Linked DNA regions of Homo sapiens: region 2 is linked to region 1. The links come from fine-mapping of genetic effects on gene expression. A gene starts in region 1. The other region holds a variant in brackets. All regions are shown on one strand. Distances are between the middles of the regions.

Region 1 (2,500 bases):
CCAAAGCTTCTGTCAGGCAGGTCGCTGCAGTGATAGCCTCTCGCCTCCTCTTTTCTGGGGAGAGGGGGAAAAGGAATTGGAGGGGAGACTTGGTTTTTTGAGGGGTAGTGTTAAAGGTTCCCTACCCATCCATTACTATTCTGCTAGTTGCCGAAATTTCTTAACTAATCTCTGAATGCCGGAGCTGAAAAGGACCTTGCAAAACATAGCGCAACCTCTTTCATTTTAGAGATGAGGAAACTGGTACCCTGGGAGGGAAATGGACTCACTCAGGGACGCCAGGAAGTCAGCGGCAGCGCCCAGGACTCCTGACTCCCAGGCACTCTTTCTCCACTACTCGGCCGCAGAATCGGTAACTCCGAGATTTCCAGCCCGGACTCAGGAAACAAGTGCCCCACCTCCGTTCCGGTGGTTTCAGGCCTCCAAGAAGCCCATCTCTGGGGGGTTCCCCACACCCTCCTCCCTCCAGAGTCGCTCCTTCCCGCCGCCAGGACGAGAGGCTCCCAGGGCCAATAGGCAGGGCGCTCCGGGGCAGGGGCGGGGCTAAGGTGCGGCAGGTCGGGGATTGGGGGCGTTGCCGAGGGGACCGGAGTATTGCCCAAGGGACCGGAGCCAGTTGGCAAGGGAAAGGAGTTTCAAAAAAAGCCTCTCTGAAATTCCCTCTCCCCCATGCCCGTTGCCCGCTAGCTGGCGTCTTTCCCTGGATATGGTTAGTTACTCGAGATCCAGGCTCCGGGCTGAAGCTAGGCCGCGGCCGAAGAGAAAACGGCCGACAGGATATTTGGCTCACCCTGCAGCTCCTTGCGTTCATTCTGCTTGGCCTGGTGTTCTTTTAGGAGGCGGGACAGCATGGTCACGTCGGGCTGGGGGCTGGGTACGCCGGGCCCCCTCCGGCTCCGGAAGCTGGAACGCTCACCTCGGCTCCCCGGGGCCATGTCACGTGACCGCTGTGTCACGTGAGGTTGGGAACCGCCCTCTTGAGACCTTGGGTGAAGATCTTGGCGGGGAAGAGAGGTAGAGGGTTGCGGAGGGCAGGTGAAGTGTTCTTTATTGGGAGCTTAGTTTTTGGTGAGTGTTGGAAGAAGTATTTTCTAATACTTATATTGCCAAGCCAGTTTTTAACATTTCCTGTGGATCTCAGGCTTCGAGGGCTGGTGGTGTCAGGCCGTCTATCACCGTTTAATTGAGGGAGCAGAAGCTCCCTGGCCTCATTTAAATTATTCTCCTTCCCTCTCCTCACCTCCTGGCAGTGCTAGCTGGTTCTCAGTTGATTCCCAGTTCCTTCCCTCAAGGAGAGGATGCTTTCCTGTCTCTCCCAACCCTCTTTCTTCTCACTACCCCACTGAAGTCTCTCAGCTCTGGGTGATCATTGTAGAGAAGCATTTTAGGCACTTCAGACAGCCTCCTAGGGAGCTTGGCTAACTTGGCGGGCTGTGTGAATGTAGAATTTCATCTCTGTCCTTTTGTGGTCAGGAATGCGAACCCATTTCAGTGTTAGCAGAAGCGTAAGTGCTGTGCCAAAGTAAAAAGTAATTTATATAAGGCCTCTGTGAACTAAAAAGAAATGCTTCCGGGATTAACTCCAGCGAGAACAATTATAAACATCATGAGCATATTCTTGCTACTGGTACAATCTCTCTCGGTGCACCTTGCACTAACATGTTGGGTGACTTTGGGCAAGTTGCTCACCATTCTAGGTTATAGTTTTCTCTTTAGTAAAACTAGGAGAAGGGATTGGATTAAATCGGTGGTTCTCAACCCTGGCTAAGCATTAGAATCTAAACATTAGAATCACAGAAATCACAAGGCTTATAAAAATGCCGTGATTAGCCGGGTGCGGTGGCTCACGCCCGTAATCCCAGCACTTTGGGAGGCCGAGGCGGGCGGATCACGAGGTCAGGAGTTCGAGACCAGGCTGACCAACATGGTGAAACCTTGTATCTACTAAAAATACAAAATTTAGCCAGGCGTAGTGGCACAAGCCTGTAATCCCAGCTACTCAGGAGCCTGAGGCAGGAGAATCGCTTGAACCTGGGAGGCAGAGGTTGCAGTGAGCCGAGATCACGCCACTGAACTCCAGCCTGGGCGACAGAGTGGGACTCTGTCTCAAAAAAAAAAAAAAAAAAGCCTTGATTCCAGACTAATTAAATAGAATCTAAGGAGTGAAGACCAAACATCACTATATATATGTATGTATATATGTATGTATACGTATATATGTGTATATATGTATGTATACGTATATATGTGTATATATGTATGTATATGTATATATGTATATATAAAATTATTATTATTTTTGAGACAGAGTCTCGCTCTGTCGCCTAGGCTGGAGTGCAGTGGCATGATCTCAGCTGACTGCAACCTCCACCTCCCAGGTTCAAGCGATTCTCCTGCCTCAGCCTCCTGAGTAGCTGGGATTACAGGCATGTGCCACCACACCTGACTAATTTTTGTATTTTTTTTTTTGAGACGGAGTCTCGCTCTGTCGCCCAGGCTG
Region 2 (3,024 bases), 100 kb before region 1:
CCCAGAAGCCCCCATGTGATCCAAGGGTTTGTATTTTTTTTTTAAGTTTGTTCATATTTGTATGTACATGACTATTTAAAGCCAGGGGATTATCTTTCTATAAATGTATAACTGGCAACCTGTATCTTCCCTCTTTGTTGCCCATATAGCCGGAGCCCTTTTTCTCATTTGAGAATCTCTTCCCTACTAAGTGTTAAGCTTAGAGTGAAGGGCACCTCCTACTGGACCAAAGGAGAGGGGATTGGAGAATTGTTTTAAGTTTTATACATTAGGTCAGTATTCCATCTTCCCACCCCCAGCCTTATGAGGACAGCTCTCTACCCATCCTGATTAAACTGCAGCTATAGCTGAAAAAAATTATTGTAAGAAAAATACACAGCAAAACAGAGCTGGAAGGTGGTAAGTGTAAAAGATATGGAAAGATGTAATCACCAAAGAAGCTGCCCAAATGGCTTCCTGCTATGGAGGAGAGTGATTTGGCCCTTACCTCACCTGCCTTCCTGATTCAAAGAAACTTGCCACTAGCAGGACTGGGCCCAGGAGCCCCATTTGCCAATCTCTTCTCTTCTTGGGAGTCTGGGAAAGGTTGTATAGTTCTCAGGCTTTAAAGGTGTAGAAGACAGTATGGAGAATAAGAGAAGGATGTTTTATAGTCCTCTGTTTCAGTGCCTTCCCCATGCCCATGGAGCTGTCCCAAAACCCATCCCTCAGTATTTGTTGATGCCAAAGACACGAACCCCATGGAACTGGGGCAACTTCGGCAGCAGTACACTTAGCAATGAGGCTGTGTTGATGAGGAAGTGCGCAGCATCATACTTGGTATAGAAGCTGGCCAGGAGATAGCTGGGGAGAGAAAAAAATAGGGTGAGTGAGGTTGACCTTCTCTATCCATATTCTTTTTTTTTTTTAAGAGACAGTTCTCACCATGTTTCCCAGGTTGGAGTGCAGTGGCTATTCATAAGTGTGATACGTGCAGTACAACCTCAAACTCCTGGGCTCAAACAATCCTTCTGCCATAGCCTCCCAAGTAGCTGGGACTCCAGGCATGCACCACAGTGCCCTGCTCTTTCTCTTCTATTTTAAATGACCAGTTTTACTGTATATAGTTCTAGATTATCTAAAACTATTCCAGCTATATCAACAGCATTTACTTTGGGGTTCAGGAGATAGCACCCTTAACTGGAGACTGTAAGTCAGTATCTGTTAATTGTTAATGACATGGCAAATGACGGCTCAAGCTATTTCAGTCTGTATGACTGTTACAGTCCTCTTTGCTTCCACTCCCTACAGTGTTTTTGAAGATTAATATCAGTTCTGCCTTTATTTACTTCTTTTGGCAGTGTAAAATCATTTGGTTTTATTTGGCACTTATCTTTTCTCAGTCCCTTCATTTCCTTACTACCAAGGAGGCAGCAAGGAATGCTTGATTACAGTATTGACTGTAATCTACATTTTACTGCTCTCTGTAGGCTTAGAACTAGTATACCATAATATCTTCAAAGGGTTTTAGATGAGAAGTCTGCTTTTTAACAGCTTCCCTATGGGCCTTTCTACCTGGCTCTTGGAGCTCTTTCTAACCCAGCATATCT[C/A]ATTTCCCCCATAGACTCACAGCACAATAGGAGAGATGCTGAGGAACTTGCGGGAAGAGGTAAACTGGAGCCCATAGTCCATTTGCTCCCAGTGTGTCAGTAGCCGAGCCTTTCCTTGGTCAGGAGTCTCAAAGGGTGTCCCTTTCACCGTATGAAGGAAGACATACGTAGCCTGGGAACAGGGAAGGTGGCAGTGTGAGGGGCAGAAAGTAGTTTTTCAGTCAAAGAATTATGTTAAGATCCCAAAAGGAACACATAAATCCCCAAACAATTGGTGATTTTATTTTGCTTTTGGTTGGGAAACCCTGGGGTGGGTACAAGGGCGTGGTTTAGTGCTCACCAGGTTATGGATGACGTTGGTCAGGGTCCAGACAACAGGAATGCTGAAGAAGGGGATGCTGAGTAGAACCATATGCAGCAATCCTACCAAGATGATGTAGGCCAGCCAGATGCCTCGGCTATTCATCACTCGGGTGTTGGGGTTTACTTCGCTGTGTGCCACCCCCACATTCATCCTAGCCGTAATGGGGGATCAGGCAGGAGTCCAGCTCAGTTTTTTCTCAACCCCTCTTGAGCTATCTCCCAGTTGTCTCTCAGATAGCCCCAATCCCCTGAACTCTATTGGGAATGAAGAACTTACCCATCACGCAGAAAATAAAAACTGAAGACTTGGGGAAAACTTTAAAAGACAAGAAGAGTCCTCACTACATTTCAGAGACATAGTCATTATTGCTCTGATCTTTACACGTCAACTGTAACATGAAGGTGTATGTGTAGGCTTGGGGCACTCACTTCAGGGAGCAAGGGAAATAGGAGTATCTGACTTTGCTGAAGAAGTTAATAACCATGAAGAGGTCACGTACACCCAGAATTCCAGGCGAAAGTCATGGAATCATCAAAGAACCACTAAGAAGGGATGACAGAGTAAAGCTCACTCTGGTCCCCACTTTGTTCTCTGGGGCTTGTCCACCCTCTCTCTCACCTCCGTGGCATGTAAACAGTCTGCATCCCCATTACTTCTCTCAAGCGTGGGGCACGACAACAACTTGCCCACGGCTTCTGGACTGGGTTAGGAAGGGACCTGAGCTCAATACCTCGAAAGGTGGAGCCTTGGCTCTGACTCCAGGGGCAGCAGTGATTATCTGAACTCGGATCTTTAAAATTGTGGTAGCTCTAAAGCTGATGATGTCTGGTTAGGAAGCGGCTCTTGCCCGCCCCAGCCCCACCGCCAGTTCCTTAAGCCCGCCCCATGCCCCTCCCAGCTTCCTCCTCATGTTCATCGGTTTTTTCAGGGCTCCCTTCAGCGCTCCCCTCTCAGTATTTAGGTCACCACTCCCTCGGCGCCCCTTTCGCCTCCCACCATTTTTCCTCAGCAACCCTTACAGTCTTTGCAGCTCCTACCTGCCAGCTCAGATCCCCGTCCGGCTATGGGCGC

Evidence for each region.
Region 2: its variant is fine-mapped to the expression of BLOC1S1 in substantia nigra (GTEx, PIP 0.90).

What each region holds. Positions count from the first base shown.
Region 1 is chr12:55,714,487-55,716,986 of GRCh38, reverse strand. It overlaps BLOC1S1 (biogenesis of lysosomal organelles complex 1 subunit 1), which reads right to left and starts at 941. Exons shown (of 4, transcript NM_001487.4): 1 at 791-941; 2 at 1-54. The coding sequence starts at 935. BLOC1S1-RDH5 (BLOC1S1-RDH5 readthrough) reads right to left here and starts at 953. Exons shown (of 6, transcript NR_037658.1): 1 at 791-953; 2 at 1-54. It also overlaps a transcript of ITGA7 not described here. RefSeq lists enhancers at 237-476, 757-896.
Region 2 is chr12:55,818,079-55,821,102 of GRCh38, reverse strand. ORMDL2 (ORMDL sphingolipid biosynthesis regulator 2) reads right to left here. Exons shown (of 4, transcript NM_014182.5): 1 at 2,991-3,024; 2 at 1,930-2,104; 3 at 1,610-1,761; 4 at 1-843. The coding sequence starts at 2,103. The coding sequence ends at 708. It overlaps DNAJC14 (DnaJ heat shock protein family (Hsp40) member C14), which reads left to right. Exons shown (of 7, transcript NM_032364.6): 7 at 1-118. Among named protein-coding and RNA genes, the nearest start is that of ORMDL2, 1.6 kb to the right of the region's middle. The variant C/A (reference allele first, on the strand shown) is at 1,590.